Homo sapiens: one gene and its partners. The protein of the gene in region 4 interacts with the protein of the main gene of each other region in a pairwise test. Each region holds a gene or a part of one and is shown on either strand. Other genes may lie near its edges.

Region 1 (5,124 bases), on a different chromosome or scaffold from region 4:
TGTTTTAAAGGGCCAGGGATGGAGCACAGGAAGTTATTGCACACTGAAATAATATAAATAGAATTTTTCCCCCAGATACCAGAATAGAGGGAAAATTATTCCTGTTAACATTTATATTTATGAAGTCATTCTGTAACTTATTAAGAGAAAAATGACTGTAACAAAAGGATGGTCTTCCAACCTGGGCAACATGGTGAAACCCTCTCTCTACAAAAAGTACAAAAATTAGCCAGGTGTGTGGTGGTGTGTGCCTGTAATCCCAGCTACTTGGTGGGGCTGAGGCAGGAGAATCGCTTGAGCCCAGGTGGTGGAGGTTGCAGTGAGCCAAGGTGGTGCCACTGCACTCCAGCCTGGGTGACAGAGCAAGATGCTGTCTGGAAAAAAAAAAAAAAAAAAAAGATCTCGTGAAGAAATGAGAAAATATGATAGATGAAGCCACTTTCTTGGAAGTCTTTAAGCCCATTAATAAAACTAGATTTGCCTAGCTACCCTTAGGCACTAAAGCCACTAAGTGCTAAACTCTGCCTGACTTTTATTGTTGTCTTCCCAGTTTTTGAATCGTGCAAAATTTTTGATTTAAAAATTAAGTATAATTCCTTTTTTTTTTCAGGCAGCAAAACAGGAACTTGAACGACAACGTCGCTTAGAATGGGAGAGAATTCGGCGACAGGAGCTTCTCAATCAAAAGAATAGAGAACAAGAAGAAATTGTCAGGTTAAACTCTAAAAAGAAGAATCTTCATCTTGAGTTGGAAGCACTGGTATGGCTGAAGTTTAAGTGAAATTTATCTGAATGATGATGGAGCTACCTGTTGAAAAATGTAATTGTGGGCCAGGCGTGGTGGCTCACACCTGTTATCCTAGCACTTTGGGAGGCCAAGGCAGGCAGATCAACTGGGGCAGGAGTTTGAAACCAGCCTGGCCAACATGGTGAAACCCCATCTCTACTAAAAAAAAAAATTAGCCAGCTGTGGGCTGGGCATGGTGGCTCACTGTAATCCCAACGCTTTGGGAGGCTGAGGTGGGTGGATCACGAGGTCAGGAGTTCAAGACCAGCCTGGCCAATATAGTGAAACCCCATCTCTACTAAAAATACAAAAATTAGCCAGGAGTGGTGGTGTGCGCCTGTAGTCCCAGCTACTTGGGACACTGAGGCAGAAGAATTGCTTGAACCTGGGAGGCGGAGGTTGCAGTGAGCTGAGATCGCGCCACTGCACTCGAGCCTGGGCAACAGAGTGAGACTCCGTCTCAAACAAACAAACAAAAATTAGCTGGCCGTGGTGGGTGGTGGTGGGTGCCTGTAATCCTAGCTACTTGGGAGGCTGAGGCAGGAGAATCACTTGAACCCAGGAGGTGGAGGTTGCAGTGAGCCAAGATCGCACCACTGCACTCCAGCCTAGGTAACAGAGTGAGACGCCATCTCAAAAAAAAAAAAAAGAAAAATGTAATTGTGTTTTAAAATCTCTCGTGAATTAGTTATGTCTTAATGTCATTAGTCACATTTTCATATAAACAGACTGTACAATATGGTTTACTGAGAAAAGGATAATGACTCAAAATGCTGAGAATTATGTTGTAGCATCAGTTCAGACACTGATGAACCATGTACTCCTGGGCAAGACATTTCCCTTCTCTGTGCCTCACTTTTCCCTTGTCTGAAATAAAGAGTTGTGTTAGTTGAGTGATTTTCAGTTTTCAGATTGGTCTCTGTAAGATGGTCTGAGGAGGACTAAGCAGAGGCAGGAGAGGGGAAGCTCGGGCAGCAGAACAGTGATTTTCTCTCCCTAATTCTTCCCACGCTTCACAACAGAGAAGCTTGACATTTATGTGCTTTATGTTTCTTGGGGTTTCACTCAAGATTTGCTTGGAAAAAAAAAGATTCTACTATTAAAAAGACAACTGATTTGAAACTGCTGACCTAAATGATCTCTTACAGTTCCAGTTCTGCAGGATTGTAGTTCTTAGCTAATACTGGCCACTAAGCAGTTTTTACCAATCAGATGTTAGAGGGTCAAGTTGTTAAAAGACTTTGTTTGAAATGTGTGGTGAGAAGGTATAAAAGATCTGGCACTATTCTGCCACAACCCTAGAATCCCATGAGCCTACCCTGATCATATAGTAGGGTTTTACAAAAATGCATACCTAGTCATGTAGTAGAGCCAGATTTAGATCTTGTGTGATCATAGTCTAACATTTTATTTGGTTGATGACTTGAATTACATTAAAAATTATTTTTTTAATCATCACAATATCTTTAGTCAGAAATATATTATTTTATTCCTTCAAATGGATAGACATACATACCACAAGTATTAATCATGCCAGAGTACTACAAAACAGTTGTAAAAAACTTTTAACTCTCTTGCACTATTTTTATATATATATATCATCTTGACTATATATAATGGGAAGAGACCTTAAGATTGATTGTTTTTCCCTCAAGAACTGGTGCAACACATGAAGCACAGTAACACAGGTGAATGTGCAGAGTCTGGAAAGGTCCAGAGCCTATACGTATCCCATGTTGAGGATAAGAATGTGAGCTCCAGCAGAGATACACATGTTCCTTTCAGTGTATGTATTTCAAATATGAAACAGTCTTCAGTAAAACTTTTCATCATCAGTAAGTTTTAACCCAGGATGTCATTTCCCCTCACTCCACTGTATTAGTTTGGTAGGGCTGCTGTAACAAAATACGATAGGCTAGGTGGCTTAAACAACAGAAATTAATTTTTTCACAGCTCCTAAGATCTAAGACCAAGGTTAGTTAGGCTTAGTTTCTTGTGAGGCCTCTTTTGGTGGCTTGCAGGTGGCCATCTTTCATTGTGTCCTTATATGGTGTTTTCTCTGAGTGTATTTTATCTCTGGTGCCTTTTGTGTTCAGATTTCCACCTCTAATAAGGACACCAGTTAGATTGGATTAGGGTCCACCTGTATGACTTTGTTTAACCTTAATCACCTCTTTAAAGGCCCTGTCTCCAAATATTGTCACATTCTGAGGTACTGGGGCTTGGGACTTTAACATATGAATTTTGGGGGACACAGTTCAGCCCATAACCCCCCATGTCACCCTTCTTCTTAGGTCCCATTGAGAATCTCTGCTATTTGTTTGATTTCTTCACAGAAGAAGAGGAAAAAAGGAGAAGAATATTAGTATAGAACAGAACTGTTGCCAAAACGTTCCTCCTGGGCACTGTTTTAATTAGAGGAAATTAGATGGCCATATTTAGGGTAGAAATAGAAGTTCAGAGAAGGTAATGCCGAGCATCACATGCAAACATTTATTCCTCTTCATCATTCTTTGAGAGTGTCTCTGATATTAATATTGTTAATTAATATTGTCTAATGCTGAATTCAGAAAAAAATTCAATGTGTTATGTTTCTGCTTTCCCATACTAACATATGGGCTCTTGCACTCTGAGAATGATGTGTTTCCCACTAATAACTCGAGTTAACAGACACAACTCTGAAACACATTCCACTTGGTTTTAGGCATTTGTTTCAGGATGAATATGAATGATAACTGAGATTTTAAAATTTAACTAAAAATATTATTCTCCTTGTAGAAACATTTTCTATTAGCATTTTATGTTACTATATATTTATATGATCTTCCTATAGAATGGCAAACATCAGCAGATCTCAGGCAGACTTCAGGATGTCCGACTCAAAAAGCAAACTCAAAAGACTGAGCTGGAAGTTCTGGATAAGCAGTGTGACTTGGAAATTATGGAAATCAAGCAACTTCAACAGGAACTTCAGGTAAGTCCTTCACTGCTAAATTGTTCTTAAACATGTACAATTAATAGTTCTTCTGGGCTGGGCACGGTGGCTCACGGCTGTAATGCTAGCACTTTGGGAGGCTGAGGCGGGTGGATCCCCTGAGGTCAGGAGTTCGAGACCAGCCCAGTCAGCAGGGCAAAACCCCGTCTCTACTAAAAATACAAAAAAATTAGCTGGGTATGGTGGCGCATGCCTGTAATCCCAGCAACTCGGGAGGCTGAGGCAGGAGAATCGCTTGATTCCGGGAGGCAGAGGTTGCAGTGAACCCAGATCGCACCACTGTACTCCAGCATGGATGATAGAGCGAGATTCCATCTCAAAACAAAACAAAACGAAACAGTTCTTCTAATAGAGTTTTGTTTTGGGGGTCAATAACCTTGAGTCTTTGATAGGCTTGTGATCTAAATACACGCAATCCTGTATACAATATCAGGAAGTCCATAGACCTACTAAAACTCTGCTAGACGTCTGGTTAAGTTTTGCTTAATATATATACGTAAGTGGACATTTATCACTTTGAGTTTTAACTCTTTAACAATGTTTATGCATTCTTAATTCATTACTTGCTATAACAAACGACCTTAGACTGGGTAATTTATAAACAACAGAAATTTATTACTCATAGTTCTAGAGACTGAGAAGTCCAAGATCAAGGTGTTAGCAGATTCAGTGTCCGATGAGGGCTTGCTGTCTCCTTTAAAACTAGTGCCTTCTTGCTGCGTCTTCACATGCAGAAAGGGTAAGGCAGTCCCTTCAACTTCCTTTATAAGGACAGTCATCTCATTCATGAGTGTGGAGCCTCCTAAAGCCCTACTTCTTAATAGTACTGCATTGGGAGTTAGGTTCCAACATATGAATGTTGGGGACATACCAACATTCAGACCATATCATACATTAAAATAAGGTTATTGCTACTAATTTTAGGAAATTTTGACTTAAAGTTATTCTTTTTAAAATTATGATGAGAACTTGAATATGTCCCTTGGGGTCCTGGTAATTCTCTTCCTTACTTGTGCAGTAGGGTCTGGTTCAATAATTACTATTTGCAGAATGGGGCTGTGGAAGCATTCTGCATCTCTAGAGTTCTCTTACCCAATTTCTCTTACTGCATGGACTGGCAATTAATCAGTCTTTTTGCTTTGTTACAGGAGAGATAAACAAAAGCCAAAAATATTTTCTGTCTGATTTAAACCTGCTTTCCTAGTTTTTAGTCCTTTTTATTTTTTCCTCCCTCTGTCACCCAGGCTGGAGTGCAGTGGCATGACCTCAGCTCACTGCAACTTCTGCCTCCCAGGCTCAAGCAATTCTCCTGCTTCAGCCTTCTGAGTAGCTGGGATTACAG
Region 2 (5,124 bases), about 27 Mb from region 4:
TTCAGTTCAGCAATTTCATGTAGGGAGAATATAATTTTTCCAAGCCAGGTGGATTTAGACACTGCCTTTAGTTTGGTCAGATAGCCAGAAATATTAGGGCAATTCTGTGTCTTCTGTGCTTGCCTCACATTGTACAGTGTGAGTGGTTCTCCTTGGCTCAGTGGGTTCCTCTTATTTGTAACTGAGGCACATTGATAGGACAGGTGCTTGATGTATCTTTAGGTTTGTAGTCTTAAGAAAATAGAAATTCTGACGTGATTAATTCTTATCAAAGTTTGTGAATTTACTGTGAAATTGTCACTAATTATCCTAGGTAGCCCTGTCATTTTTCAAAATCTGGTTTTACATTGGCCTCAAGGCTGTAGAGTAGTGGAAAGCGAGGATAGACTTTAGTTGCTTCTGTTTAGTACACGTGTCTACCTTAATGTAAAAATTTGCATTTCCTTGAATAATCTACAGTGTCATACCTTCCCTCATTTTGTGGGGAAGGGGGATGTAGTTTCACATTTAATGTATTCAGTAGGAATAATCTTGGGTGAACCACTGGTATTCCATCTGTTCATTAGTTTGAGTCTCTTAAGTCAAAAAAGACTCTTGATCTGAGGAAGTAGCATAGTGAATCTGTGATCTTATAGTTTGCCTATGTTTAAAAGTAAACTACATTTTCATATGCTGCTTCAGCTACTTCCAGAAATTCTGTAGAGACATAATGGTTAAGGTCTTGTAAATATCAAGGAAACGTTCCATCCTCATCACGTCTTTCATTTCAGAATGTGAGGTGGTGAGGCCGGAGGCAGTGGCTCACGCCTGTAATCCCAGCACTTTGGGAGGCTGAGGCGGGCGGATCACTTTGAGGTCAGGAGTTTGAGACCAGCCTGGCCAACATGGTGAAACCTTGTCTCTACTAAAAATGCAAAAATTAGCTGGGTGTGGTGGCGGGTACCTGTAGTCCCAGCTGCTCAAGAGGCTGAGGTAGGAGACTTGCTTGAACCGGGGAGGCCGAGGTTGCAGTTAGCCGAGATCCCGCGACTGCTCTCCAGCCTGGGAGACAGAGCAAGACTCCGTCTCAAAAAAAAAAAAGAAAAAAAAGAAAATGTGGGGTGGCAAATCTTTTTTGCAGAGCCTCCTATATAAAATCCTCATAAATGATGCAGTGGAAGCTGGGCCCGTGAGCCTTCTGCCTTGACTTGAGTGAACTATTGAAACTCTTTTGTTGACTAGAGATACTTTATCTGTGGTAGTAAATGTAAATTTTCCTTATTGAGATCCACTTTTAAAATTCTTTTTTTTTTTTTTTTTGAGACGGAGTTTTGCTCCTGTTGCCCAGGCTGGAGTGCAGTGGTGCGATCTTGGCTCACTGCAACCTCCGCCTCCTAGGTTCAAGCAGTTCTCCTGCCTCAGCCTCCTGAGTAGCTAGGATTACAGGCATGCGCCACCATGTCCGGCTAATTTTGTATTTTTAATAGAAACGGGGTTTCACCATGTTGGTCAGGCTGGTCTCGAACTCCTGACCTCAGGTGATTCGCCCACCTTGGCCTCCCAAAGTGTTGGGATTACATGCGTGAGCCACTGCGCCCGGCCTAAAATTCTTAATAGACAGGTAGTTAGGTTGTAGTTCATGTTAGCTGATCAATTAAACTTTTTTTTAAAAAATGTTTTAGTTATCAGGAGGGTCCAGCTTTGGCCTGAGGTTGTGCATTGGCCATTTCTGCTCGAAACCAGTAGTAGTCAGACTTAAAACATGTGCACACCTGCACACACAGCAGCAACTAGAAAGCCTTTAGAGAGAAATATGCAGAATTTCGAAATGTAAAACAGATAAAAGGAGTAAAGCTGTTTTGTGGAAGGAAGAATAGGCAGTTGTTGAAGTCCTGCCTGATCAGTTTTCCTCTCATCCTCACCACCAGGAAGCCTTTGAAGCACAGCTGAAGAACAGTAGGTCTTGGAGAAATTTTTGCTGTAGACCTGCTCTATCTTAACAGGTAGCTGCCAGCCACATGTGGCTATTTAGCACTTGAAATGTGGCTGCTGTGACTGAGAAACTGAATGTTAAATTTTACTTAATCTAAATTTAGATAGCCATATGCAGCTGATGGCTACTGTATTAGACAGCACAGATACCCAAGGACATTTACATCATTGTATAAAGTTGTGTTGGGTGGCACTACTCTAGACTTTGCTTTAATTGAGCTTTTATGGCCTGAGGACCCCACTCACGTGAATTGACGTGGTATTAGTTGCTGCTTCAGAAGAGGGTCAGGATAGACTTTGGGAATTTGAAGAGCAATTAGAGTACTTGTACTTTATATTTGTGCTGATTTGAGTCTGGGCCTGTGTAGTGTTGTCATAGGTGCTTTTTTTTTTTTTTTAATAATCTGGGAATGATAAACCAATATGTAAGTTACGTGTTTACAAGTTGATTATAGAGTTGTGGATTCCACAAAACTCATTATAGGTGATAGGAATATAACTCTTAGTTAAAAAAAAAAAAATAAGTAGTCTCTTTACACAGCAGTCCCTATTTAATGTGGACTTTTGCTAAAATAATAATTTTCTTGAATTAAATTCAAGCTTGCATTAGGTTTGACAGTCCATAAAGTTGAACACATGAATGTTTTCTGTTTGCTTTTGTTTAAAAGACATGACCCATCATTCTCCATGGGGGCCGACCTAGGTTTCCAGTTGGCAGTGTCTTTCCTTACTAGCTTACGCTTTGGAGAGAACATAGTTGTAGTGAGAATTGAAAAATCTGTTTTTAAAAAATTGGGTTTTATGTATTTTAATTTTTTTGAGGTTTTCTATTATCCTGGTTACTAATGAATTATTTATTTGACTAAAACAGTTATACAATTCCAGGTCATTGATGCTGCTGTTTTTTTCTCTGCCTTGTAGTATGTTTGAACATAGATTGCTAAAAATCTCGGTCTCCACAGAGGATTGGTTCCGGGACTCTCCTGCAAGCACCAGAATATGAGAACGCTGAAGTCCCTTGTATAAAATGGTGTAGAATTTGTTTTATGCACATTTTATTGTTATTCTTTAAATCCTCTCTAGATTACTTAATATCTAATACAATGTAAATAGTTGTTATTCTATATTGTTTTAGAAATGATGAGAAAAAAGTCTGTACATGTTCAGTACAGTCACAGTTTTTTCCTGAATATTTTTTATCCATGGTTGGTTTAATCCATGTATTTGGAACCCACAGATAAGGAGGATTGACTGCACAGTGATTTTATATTATTTCTAGTGGGACCTTAGATGTTCTAGATGAGGCAGCACCATCATATTTAAAGTATTTTTGTTGAAATAATTAACTTTGGTTTTCTTTCTAAATAAAAATTCACATAGGTATTTGGGGAATATTTTGTATTTTCCTGCAGTTTGAAGATTTGAAATTTCTCTTCCCTCCATACCTTTTAAAAGTGCAATCTACTTTTGCTTTCTACATTTAATCACTATCTGTTCTTGACTTCAACTTTGCAAACATATTTTTTAACCATTCTTTTTCACATTTCCCTTCCTACTGGCCTTCCGGATGAACTGTCAAGTTTAGCAGTCTTTTCTCAGTGATCATACTTTCTTCAGTGTTTGCTGTTATTGTTTATACTGTCTTTATCTAAATTTCTTAAAATGACACAGACACAAGTTAGGCCCATTCTTCTTACTGTAAACAGATGAAAATGTTGGATAAAATATAAAAGTTTTCTCTTATGTATACAGTTGATCTTGAGAGAGAAAGTGCCCAGGTACTAGAAACTTAGAAAAATCAGTCAACTTTAAGGGAAGTGTGGCCTTGGGGGATTTACTAGAGATAAGATTCAGTAGTTGGGGCTGAGGTTATAATGCCATTCAATGAAAGGAGACAGAACTGTGGGAACTGTGTGCTTAAAAAAATTAAAAAATGAAAAGTGTTCTGGTATCATTGAAACATCTGGGGCTTCTTGGAGAAAGAAGCCTCAGACCTCTCTATGGAGGAACTGGAAAAACAGTAGGCTTTAGATGGACTTTAATATCACAGCAAGGCAAGGCAGGGTACATGAAAACATCTACAGCTGCATGTGGAATAGTGAATTTTTGTATACATAATCCATGACTGCAATCCAAAATTCAGGGATACCCAGTGAAGAGTCTCTTTACTGGTCTGTTCTTTGCCATACAGTTGCCTTTTCAAAGGCAAGTAGCTTTACTAGGTTTTTGTGTGGTGTTCCAGAGATTTTATGCATCTATGAACAATTTTGTGTGTATATTACCTTTTAGTACAAGTGGTCACATATGTCACTTAATAGTACATCTTATTTTGTGTCAGTATGTAATGAATGCCTTTCTTCTTTTTTGGAGTAGTGGGTTGTATAATATTCTTTTGTATGGGTGTCTGTAAATTTTTTTTTGAGACAGTGTCTCACTCTGTCACCCAGGCTGGAGTGCAGTGGTGTGATCACAGCTCACTGCAACCTTGACTGCCAGGGGTCAAGTTAATCTCCCACCTCAGCTACCTGAGTAGTTGGGACTGCAGGCGCATGCCTACCATATCCAGCTAATTTTTAAAATTTTTTGTAGAGGTGGGGTTTCGCCATGTTGCCTAGATTTGTCTTGAACTCCTGGGCTCAAGCGATTTGCCTGCCACGGCCCCTCAAAGTTTTGGGATTACAGGCGTAAGCCACTGTGCCTGGCCGGGTGTCTGAATATATCATCAGTCCTCTGTTGAATGTTTCCAGTCTTGTGGTATTAAAAACAATGCTACAACAAATAACTTCGTTTATATAGCATTTTGCTCCTTTGCAGGTATGTCTGTAAGATAGATTTCTAGGAGTAGTTCAAAGAATATCTACATTTGTAATTTATTTTAGAGAATGTACTTTATTCATTTTTTCGAATAACACATGCACATGGTATAAAAGTCAAGGAGAACAAAATAGCAAATACTGAAAAAAGTAAGCCTCCTTTACATCTCCTACCTCCTGCTGCCCAGTTGTGCTTTCCAGAAATGTAACCACTGTTACTAGCTTTTCGTTTATCCTTCTAGAGTTGCTCTGTCCAGTATGATAGCCACTAGCCACCATGTGGCTATTGAGCTCTTGAAATTGAGATGGACCACAAGCATAAAATACACACCAATTTTCT
Region 3 (5,124 bases), on a different chromosome or scaffold from region 4:
AAGTAAAATTAAGCCAGCGCAGTGGCACTTGCCTGTAGTCCCAGCTACTTGGGAGGCTGAGGCAGGAAGACTGTTTGAACCTACGAGTTCAAGGCCAGTCTGGGCAACACAGCCAAAACCCCGTCTCTTAAAAAAAATTTATCAGTACTTGATGAACAAGAGAGTGTATATGGTGATGGAGAAGAAGCTCAGAACATCTTCAGAATTGCTAGTTTACAAAAATAGGTGGATTAAATTCTGTTAAGTGAGCTGGAGGAGACAGTGAGTTTAGGTTTGCTCATGCTAAGCTGGAGGGTTACAGGAGGTCAAAATGGATTTTCTGGATGGTATTCTGAAATGCAGGTCTGAAGTTTATGATGCTTACTTGTTGACATTACGTTTCAGGGTCTCTAGCTGCTGACGTTCAGGAGCTGTGATCATCTCCTCTATTTCTTGTAACTGTGCTTCCTCTGCACCAGTAGCCTGCATAGATGCAATGATGGCTTCTACCCTCTGAGATTTTTCTAGTAGACGCCTGTCAAACAAACACAACTCTGAGACATCTTCCCTAACCTGGGAGATTCTCTTACCACGTGTGTCTGAGGCACTACCCACCACCCTTTACCATTTTCCTGATCAAAGTAGATAATGTCACCTTCTAAGGACATTTTCTACAAACTTATTTGGAAATATAACTTCACTCCTGAAATTCTTATTGCCTCTCATTTGCACTTAAAAGTTTGGTGCTTTTGTACGTTTCTCACAAATTTAATCTGAAAAATTATTTCACTGGGAGCATGTTAGAAAAGTGTAGACTAATGCATGATTTACACTAATCTAAGCCAATGATTCAATGCAAGTAGACTGGTTGCTATCTCTACTGGTTCCTACTTCTCAAAAAAAAAATTTTTTTTTTTGAGATGGAGTCTCACTTTGTCGCCCAGGCTGGAGTGCAGTGGCGTGATCTTGGTTCACTGCAACCTCCACTCACTGGGTTTAAGTGATTCTCCTGCCTTAGCCTCCCGAGTAGCTGGGACTATAGGTGCCCGCCACCATGCCCAGCTAATTTTTGTATTTTTAGTGAAGACAGGGTTTCACCATGTTGGCCAGGTTGGTCTCAAACTCCTGACCTCAAGTGATCCACCTGCCTCAGCCTCCCGAAGTGCTGGGATTACAGGCATGAGCCACCCTGCCAGGCCCAGCGTCTATTGATTCCTATTTCTAGAGGAAATTTCCCCTGAGGCCCTTGATCTTGAAAGATGTAAATAACTCAACTGAAAATGTTACTTACTTATTCTCTTTGGTTTCAAATTGCCTCCTTTCTATCAAGTTGGCTATGCTCTGAGGAAAGAGAAGACAGACAAGGAATGCACATAGTTCTATTTCAGCAGCTCAGGGCGAAGTGGGCACATGAGGGGTACTTGACCGTATGGAGGAAATGGGGAGAAGGTCCAGATTGAGTTACCTTGTAGCACCTGTGCAACAACATTCGGGCAGCTGACAGGATGTTCACAGTATATAAATAGAAGGTCCTGGATGGGGCATGGTCTGGTGTTTTGGGAATTTCCTATTTGTCCAATAGAAAGAAAAATAGCAGAAATTATACTGTTTTAGAACTGGCAAAGCACACACTCATTCTACCTGGAGTTACTTAGCCCTCCTTTTTACTTACACTTTCCTGTTTCCTAGTCATTCAGTACCTGTGTTTATTTTATTTATTTATTTTGAGACTGGGTCTTGCTCTGTTACCTAGGATGGAGTGCGGTGGCATGATATCAGCTCACTGCAACTTCCACCTCCGGCTCAAGCAATCCTCCCACCTCAGTCCCCCAAGTAGCCGGAACTACAGGCATGCACCACCATGCTCCGCTAATTTTTTAATCTTTTGGGGGTGGTGGAGACATGGTCTCACTATATTTTCCAGGCTGGTCTTGAATTCCTGGGCTCAAGTGATCATCCCGCCTTGGTTTCCCAAAGTGCTGAGAATACAGGTGTGCCCGGCCCAGTCTTTGTGGTTTATGTCATAATCAGTCAAATGGAGAGCTGGGCTTCCCTGTTTTTTCCATTTGACTGTCAGCATCCTGAGCTGGGGAAGAAAGGGAGGGCAACTAACATTTACTGAACAACTCTATGTGCCAGGTAAATTCTATTTGATCTTTACAAAAAGTCGTATTATTATTATTTTTGAGACAGAGTCTTGCTCTGTTGCCCAGGCTGGAGTGCAGTGGCACAATGTTGGCTCACTGCAACCTCTGCCTCCCAGGTTCAAGCAATTCTCCTTCCTCAGCCTCCTGAGTAGCTGGGATTACAGACACACGGCACCACGCCCAGCTAATTTTTGTATTTTTAGTAGAGACAGGGTTTCACCAGGTTGGCCAGGCTATTCTCGAATTCCTGACCTCAAGTGATCCGTCCGCCTAGGCCTCCCAAAGTGCTGGGATTACAGGCATGAGCCACCGCACCTGGCAACCATATTATTTTTATTATCACCATCCATCACTGTTTTATAGATGGGAAACGTGGTAACTTGCTTAATGTAACTGGGTAAGGCAGAGCTGTAATCTGACTCCAAAAATCCATTCTATCTATTTACTCATATGCTCTACTAAATAGCCCTGCAAAGACTCAGTTAGATGTGTTGATAAATTTAAACTATAACAGAATTAAGGCTTAAGGAAGGACAGAAATGAGAAGAGAAAAAAAGGCAGGGTGGGTTTGGGGTGATGTCCTGGCTCTGCCTCTTTTTTGTTTTTTGTTTTTTTTGTTTTTTGAGACAGAGTCTCACTCTGTTGCTCAGGCTAGAGTGCAGTGGCTTGATCTCGGCTCACTGCAACCTCCCCCTCCTGGGTTCAAGAGAGTCTCCTTCCTGCCTCAGCCTCCCGAGCAGCTGGGACTATAGGCGTGTGCCACCAGGCCCAGCTAATTGTTTTGTATTTTATTAGAGACGGAGTTTCACCATGTTGGCCAGGCTGGTCTCGAACTCCTGACCTCAAGTGATTTGCCCACCTTGGCCTCCCAAAGTGCTGGGACTACAGGCGCGAACCACCGTGCCCGGCCACCTCTTTCTCACTAGGGCAGTTAAGGCCCCAAATTATCCTCCAAGTGCTCGCTATGTCTCTGTGAATCATGTTTTTCTGTCTCAGAGCTGGATATAGAGTTTGCTTGGGGGTTCAGTATGTTTGCCTAAGAAGCTTCTCTCACCCTAGGCCAGCTTTGCTGGTTGGCAATTATTACGCCCTTGGTTGGTTACCTGGAGTGACATGAAATTTTCTGAGAGCATCTTATATAGCATATCCTTTGCCTCCTTTGCAGGAATCATTGCAAAGTCTTCCACTTGCTTCTGCTCTATGTGTTTCTTCTGCAAAACTAGACGGAATATTCTAGCACAGCGAGACCCAAATCTGGAAAGGAATGAAGAAAGCAAATGGCATGCTAACATAGATCAGCTTTAGTTCCCAGTCATAGATGGGGTGGTTGTTCTATTCCATGTGTGAAGCCAGTACCAGACAGGAACAGTGATCAGAAAATTATTCTACAGCTCCATAGGTTGGTGATGGTAAGGCATCACCAACTGCTGTTAATCATAAGGCAGTCACCAACTGCTGACTCATTTGAGTGCCACAGTTCCTACATTTGTAAGCAAAGGCTTTAGGGAGGCTGGTTAATTTGCATCGGTAGGAATTAAACAGTAGGTTATTTTAAGGTAAAGAGCAGTATTACATGAGATCCATAGGAGTCCAGTGAAAAAATGGGGAAAAGTATGCCAAGGTGTGGTTATATTGGTGGCTTACATAATGATCAAATTACTTCACTGGGGATAGGAAGTATGTGATCCCAAACCCAACCAGTGTCCCCCTTACCTCTCCTGTACGACGGACTCCAGAGTGGCTGTGGCTAGGGATGCTAATGCCTTATGGAGGTCTTTATGTAGAGAATTAAGGTCACTCAGTAATGTTTTGGCCTAGTTATTGTGATCTGAGTTTTATTCCTAAGTTTCTAATTTATAATTAAATTTTAAATGCTATTTTGTTTTTCATGTTATAATTTATGGTTTCAGTCATGGTACATAAATATTCCAAAACTTTAATACAAGTGTTTAAGTAAGGGTTTTGCTTAACTAAAATTTGGTTGATTAAAAGTCCTTTTTCCTTTTCTTTTTTGAGACAGGGTCACCCAGGTTGGAGTACAGTGGCATGATCTCAGCTTACTGCAACGTCTGTCTCCTGGGCTCTAGCGATCCTCCCACCTCAGCCTCCTGAGGAGCTGGACTACAAGCATGCATCGTTACAGCTGGCTAGTTTTTGTATTTTTGGTAGAGATGGGGTTTTGCCATGTTGCTTAGCTGATCTTGAACTCCTGGGTTCATGCAATTCACCTGCCTCAGCCTCCCAAAGTCCACCATGCCTGGCCTCTTTTTACTTCATCATCAATGCAGTTCACTGAAAATTCATAGAAAAATTTATTTAACAATTACTTCAATTTTCTAATTTATTTAGTATAATAAACATTACCAAATCTTTCTTTCCTAAGGCACCATTCTGATTTATAGGTCAGGCTGCCTGACTCTAAGGAAATAACTGGTAAGGATACTGATGACATACATTCCTCCACCACTGTCGCCAGACTTTCCAACAAACTCTAGCTATTAAGAAAAAGAGAGAGTGTTAACTGAACGGAAAGTCCAGTGATTCTGTTTCCAATGGAACAAATCTGACCAAAAGTCTGCAGCAGGTAGCCCTCCTATCAAATGATGTGGAGAAATTGTCTGGGCTGGCTAGGTAGAGAATAACTCTGCAGGAGGATGACACTAGGTATCAGTGCAGAAATAAATTATCAACAGTACAGGCTAAAGAAAAAAGAAAAAAAGCAAAAACAGACTTACTGGATCATCTGCCAGCAGAGTGAGATACTGATCAAGAACTTGCTTAGAGATGTTATAGCCAACAGGTAGGGATCTGAAGATCTATGGAGCAAAGGACACTTAAAATGGGTTTGGGAACTTAGAACTCCTGACCTTACTGAAATAAAGATGTTTTAGGCCGGGCACAGTGGCTAAGGCCTGTAATCCGAACACTTTGGGAGGCTGAGGCAGGTGGATCACTTTGGGTCAAGAGTTGGAGACCAGCCTGACCAATATGGTGAAAC
Region 4 (5,914 bases):
TCTCTCAGGTTTGTTGGGGGAGGGCAGTTAAAATTCACATCAAATAGACATTCAGTGTGCTTTACACTATTATGCCCTTTTCCCATACATATGCTTCCCCAGTTTGTATTTGTACAGTCAGCTTTTGTATGTTTCTTTTGTAGTTTCAAACATAGTTAAATAGCTATTTTAGTAGAAAATAATGAAGTCAGTGTTTATACCAATATGTTGTAAAATGCCCTATCCTATGAACTCCCCAGTGTATTTGCACTGGCCTGTGTACTTGTTCTCAGCAGTTAAATGGTTTCATGATATTGGCACAACTTGGGGAATAATAAATGTGGCAGTATGTTTTTCTAGTGAGCATTATTACAAAATAATCACTGGTGTGTGTATATATGTGAATACACATATAATGTGTGTGTATATGCATTCACATGTATACACATACATACATTATATGGTATATATGTATATGGTGTGTATATAGTATGTATATATATGATTAAGCTGTGTTAATTTTTGTCAGGTTTCCATTCAGTTTTAATATATGATATTTTATAGCTCAAAGATTTGGAGTCCCATAGGTAATATTAATAAGAAAGTCATTTTAAATAATTGAGACTTTATATCCTAATTCAAAATTTGACCTGCCGCGCTTTTTAGGAAGGCATGGTACGATGTGATACAGCGGTTGGAACACCTGATTATATTTCCCCTGAAGTATTAAAATCCCAAGGTGGTGATGGTTATTATGGAAGAGAATGTGACTGGTGGTCGGTTGGGGTATTTTTATACGAAATGCTTGTAGGTGAGTAAGGAAGATTTTATGTCTCTCTATTACAGTTGTTCATCTCAAAACTTGCCACTTGGCTCTTTCTAATATATTTATTATATTAAGCAATCTTGATTTTATTTGTGGGTAATAAACATGATCCAAACCTGCTTCGTATGTGTTTTTAAAAGCATTTAGAGGCTTAGAGCAACTTTGTGATGTGTTCTTTTATATATTAGGTGTATGTTTTTAGTTTAATACATACCTAATAATCTTTTTAAACGGGTAACTTTGACTCTTCCTTTGAAACTGACTTTTTAAAAATGTATTTCATTTTGCTTTTGTTTTCTTTATCAATTTTTCAGGTGATACACCTTTTTATGCAGATTCTTTGGTTGGAACTTACAGTAAAATTATGAACCATAAAAATTCACTTACCTTTCCTGATGATAATGACATATCAAAAGAAGCAAAAAACCTTATTTGTGCCTTCCTTACTGACAGGTAAATAATTTTAAAACTGAGCCTGTATTAATTCTGAGGACTTCTCATCTTCTGCTCCATTTTTAAGGTCCATATCTGAGCTTCTACATGTAAATTGTTAGAATATAAATGACAGTGAAACCTGATGTAATTTTATGATATTCTAGATGTCTTTTGTAGATCTCAACTCACTTATCATACCTAAGAAATTGTGATAATAATACAGTCTTGGCTGATGGCTAAACTAGATGACTTTTTTCTTTTATTGTTCAATTTTTAACTTGGTTAATTATAAAAATTACTGTGTATTTTACTGAATCTAAAAAAATTTTTTAACATAACATCTCTGAAATTAGAGTACATCTCACAGTCAATGGTATGAGTTGGGAGCATCCTTTTTCATAGTGGTATAAAAACGGTGATACACCTTATACTTTAAACCATTTTAGATTTGATGATGTATGGTATATGGTTGTTGAAAGAGTCAATAGTATAAAGCCATTTTTAAAAGTATACTATCTTTTTTCTTCTAGACATAATAGTTGGTGTTCCATCTTGTAGATCCAACAAGCATTTTAATAATAATGTCTGTCTGCATTTTTGAAAGAAAAATGGCATATTATATATACCTTTGTGGTTTACTTTTGAAATTTGAAAGTGAACCAGATGTATTAGTAAGATTATATTTAATGTTTATGATTGTATATTGTTAAATATTAGGGAGACCTAGTACTTTTAAATATGTTTCAAGTTGAGATTTGCTTTAACTTGTCTCCCTTCATTATGTCCTTTAGAGCTTGAAGTATGGTTTTTCAAATGTTTACTTTTTTTTTTTTTTTTTTTTTTTAAATAGAGACAGGGTTTTGCTCTGTTGCCCAGGCTGGTTTCAAACTCCTGGGATCAAGTGATCCTCCCACTTCAGCTTCCCAAAGTGCTGGGATTACAGGCCTGAGCCACCCATGCCTGGCTAATTTTTACATTGATTGATTGATTGATTGAGACAGAGTCTCACTCTGTTGCCCAGGCTGGAGTGCAGTGGCATGATCTCGGCTCACTGCAACCTCCACCTCCCGGATTCAAGTGATTCTCCTGCCTCAGCCTCCCAAGTAGCTGTGACTACAGGTTCCTGTCACCATGCCTGGCTAATTTTTGTATTTTTGATAGAGAGGGTTTCACTATGTTGGCCAGGCTGGTCTTGAACTCCTGACCTCATGATCTGCCTGCGTTGGCCTCCCAAAGTGCTGGGATTACAGGTGTGAGCCACCGCACCTGGCCAATTTTTACATTTTAATATAAAGCATTGTATTATGCTGTTTATTAGGTGCTAGGGATATAGTAGTGAGGAAGATACAGAGCCACTTTTCTCAAATACCTCATAGTCCTTTGGGGGAATTAGATAAGCAAATCAGACATTTATAGTACACACAGCTAATTACCATGAGATAAGTACCATGTGCCGGAGAACCATGGAGAGGTTTTCTAATCCAGTTTGAGAGTTAGTGAAAGCTTCTTGGAAAAATTGTCACATGTCTAAGCCAACTTATCTTTTAGCTTATGCAAAAACTTAGAATTTAGAGTATTTTCTTTATTTATAAGCACTGTACTAGGGAAAAAAGGTGCTAACTTTCTTTTTCCAATTCAGCTAAAATCACATTTTTAAAAACTTTTTGCTCACCAAAAAAGAGGCTGGTATCAGTAACTTGTCCAGTGAAAGCTCTGAATTCTGTGGCAGTATCAAGAATTAGTAGTCATTGGCTTTTGAATGGTCAGAAATAATTAATAGATTATAAATTGGAAGTTCAAAATTTTAAATGTGTTTCTGGAGGTTTTTGGTAGCATCTGGTATTGCTGCCTAAGTAAAGTTTTGGTTGGGGAAAAAAAAGCCTAACTTTACCATTGTAAGAAAAAAATAACACACACACACAAAAAACTGTCAAGAAAATGCATGGTGCTTTATTCATTTTGCTAATGAAGTAAGGTGGTGATTAATCTGGATTTTTGTTGTCAGTAGAAAAGTCATGGGTGTTTTTTGTAGTTATTCTTTAGTTTTCTTTTTTTTGAGACGGAGTCTCGCTGTGTTTCATCCAGGCTGGAGTGCGGTGGCGCAATCTCAGCTCACTGTAGCCTCTGCCTCCCGGGTTCAAGCGATTCTCCTGTCTCAGCCTCCCAAGTAGCTGGGACTACAGGCGTGTTCCAGTACACCCGCTAGTTTTATATTTTTAGTAGAGATGGGGTTTCACAGTGTTGGCTGGGCTGGTCTCGAACTCCTGACCTCAGGTGATCCACCCCACCTGAGCCTCCCAAAGTGCTGGGATTATAGGCATGAGCCACCATGTCCAGCCTTTCTTTAGTTTTCTTTTAAAAAAATTCTTTAATGTTCTCAATCTTTAACATATTTTCTATTTGGGCTGATACTATGCTGACAATATAATTTCACCTTAGAACTATATTTGTCGTCCTACACTGATTTAATATCCTGCCCACAAATAAACCTGGACAGGTTATAATAAGATCTTAAATGATTGATTACTTTTCTCCTTCTGTCATTATTCAGGGAAGTGAGGTTAGGGCGAAATGGTGTAGAAGAAATCAAACGACATCTCTTCTTCAAAAATGACCAGTGGGCTTGGGAAACGCTCCGAGACAGTAAGTTTTTTTTTTTCTTTCATATTTTAGTGAATATTTGAAAGTAGTTGTGGTAGTTTGTTGAAACTACATTGCTAAATATTTGTGTGTATCTGATGAAAATCAGAAGCCACAAATACTATATGGGAATTGTCCTAACCTATTAATTTGATAATATTGGGCAGATTATATTGTTACTCCTCTTATGTCCCACGCAGGATACCCAGATGAAATATAAATGTAATGGATTTAGGCTCACCAGTCATAATTTTACATTTGATCTTTGTTGAATTGTTCATTTTAGGCGTTAGTTATCTTATTATGGAGGTGGTCAATAAGTAGTAAGTAATGAGATTAAAATATATGTTTTTGTGAGAAGACAAGTTATTCTCTTGTTTTTATTAAAACCCAAAATATAAGAAGGTTCTATTATTAATTCCAGAATTCAATTTAATTTTATTTATGAGTTTATAGGATATTGTGATATACTTGATTCCATCAGGCTTTTGCAGCTGGCAATTCAGAAACAAAAATGTATTGTATAAGAAACTAATTTTCAGTCAGTTTAGAACACTTTCTTACTTTTTAAAAAAAGTTAAAATTACAAGATGATTCACAGAAAACTCTACAACATAGCTGAATCAAAATTATCATGACACCAAAGGTTCTCATCATCTTCGTGGATTTGGGAGGTAAAGAATTCATCTTTCCCCTGCTGACATCTTAGGATTTTTTTCCCTGTTCATCTATCAGAGAAAGGATAATGTATCTCAGTCCCTAACTTGCTGCCTTAGCAATAGCAGTGAATAGTAACAATGGAAATGAACTCAGCTACCTTATTTTAGAAAGTTACACAGTAGTTATTTGTCTTAAGGACTGCCTATCTAGTTGAGACAGTGAAGGATAGTACTTTGCAGAGAGATGGAAATCTTGTTAATTCTGATGAAATAAATCATGTAGGTTTGCTAATATTAGTGAAGCATTCTAGTTATCAAATATTTTAAAAGAACAATTGTATTGCCTTCAAGTACTATAGCACAGTACTTACATTGTGCTGAGCTATAAAATTGTCTAAGGAGGAGAAAGGGAAAATAAATCCTCTGGAAATTAAGAAATTATACAACAAAGAACATCATTGAATGACCAGCTGTCTGAGAAGCTGTAAGAGCAGCTTGACTTTGGGAGAATTTTATTAGCAATTATATACTAGGAAATAAGGAACTTCCTCCTCTTCAGAATTAAATGTGACATAATTATTATCTTCATGCTGCAAGTGAAATTGTTGCATGACAAAGAGATGATCAGGGAGTGAGAAATGGTTACATCAAAACACTTTTTGTGTTTTTATTCAGGTTATTCTCTTAGTAAAGTTTAAGAAGGCTGAAGACGTACAAATATTATTATAAATCTGAATAAAACTTTGAAGGGGACTGAAGAAAATACAAAATAATATTTTGTATTGCTTTAAATTCTTTTTCAAAGTTAAGCAATGCATAAATAATTATAGAATAACCACACAATAAATCAACCGCAAAAGTAACAAGGATATTTTTCCTTTTATGTATTGAAAAACCGATCACTTGAAAGAGGAGGTAATTTAGTCAACAACTATTTACTGAACACCTGTTGTATATTGATCACTGTTCAATTTCAGACACTGGGAAAACAGCAGTGATCAAACCACCAAAAGTTTTCTTTCTCCCTTCTGGAGCTCATAGTCTTATGGAATTAGGGAGTCCAGATCAGTGGCATTTTATTATATTGCTGTACCTCCTTCATAAAACTACTTAAGATCTGCATTATCTATGGTTTTATTCTAGCGTGGTTAGATTTAGCATACTTAAAAGAATTTTGGTAGTTTTTCCTAATTCTAAGAGGTCCTGTTTTGTGGTTATTGGAAAAAACAAAGAAAAATTGAAATCTGTAGAACTTATTGTTCTTTGCTTCCCTTCCCCTCTTCCTACCCCTTCTTTACTTCCCACCCCTAAAATACCAAGAATTCTTTTATTCTGAACTGACCTCTTTGACCTGCTAAATTTTTAAAACTTATGT

Evidence for each region. The genes of interacting proteins can lie anywhere in the genome.
Region 1: the proteins of ROCK1 (region 4) and ITSN2 interact in a two-hybrid assay, tested with the Homo sapiens proteins (one large-scale study listed by BioGRID).
Region 2: the proteins of ROCK1 (region 4) and SMAD2 interact in a two-hybrid assay, tested with the Homo sapiens proteins (one large-scale study listed by BioGRID and IntAct).
Region 3: the proteins of ROCK1 (region 4) and POLR3C interact in binary tests that used the Homo sapiens proteins (3 or more experiments, as listed by UniProt).

Annotation. Positions count from the first base shown.
Region 1 is NC_000002.12:24,294,301-24,299,424, reverse strand, and holds part of ITSN2 (intersectin-2), read left to right. Parts: intron 1-610; coding exon 611-760; intron 761-3,620; coding exon 3,621-3,761; intron 3,762-5,124.
Region 2 is NC_000018.10:47,920,424-47,925,547, reverse strand, and holds part of SMAD2 (mothers against decapentaplegic homolog 2), read left to right. Parts: intron 1-5,124. UniProt on the Homo sapiens protein: Receptor-regulated SMAD (R-SMAD) that is an intracellular signal transducer and transcriptional modulator activated by TGF-beta (transforming growth factor) and activin type 1 receptor kinases.
Region 3 is NC_000001.11:145,836,312-145,841,435, reverse strand, and holds part of POLR3C (DNA-directed RNA polymerase III subunit RPC3), read right to left. Parts: intron 4,943-5,124; coding exon 4,862-4,942; intron 4,622-4,861; coding exon 4,570-4,621; intron 4,419-4,569; coding exon of another isoform or gene 4,416-4,418; exon of another isoform or gene 3,945-4,415; intron 3,901-3,944; coding exon 3,840-3,900; intron 3,381-3,839; coding exon 3,230-3,380; intron 1,547-3,229; coding exon 1,445-1,546; intron 1,321-1,444; coding exon 1,271-1,320; intron 515-1,270; coding exon 365-514; intron 1-364. UniProt on the Homo sapiens protein: DNA-dependent RNA polymerase catalyzes the transcription of DNA into RNA using the four ribonucleoside triphosphates as substrates.
Region 4 is NC_000018.10:21,037,441-21,043,354, reverse strand, and holds part of ROCK1 (rho-associated protein kinase 1), read left to right. Parts: intron 1-645; coding exon 646-790; intron 791-1,119; coding exon 1,120-1,258; intron 1,259-3,791; coding exon 3,792-3,883; intron 3,884-5,914. UniProt on the Homo sapiens protein: Protein kinase which is a key regulator of the actin cytoskeleton and cell polarity.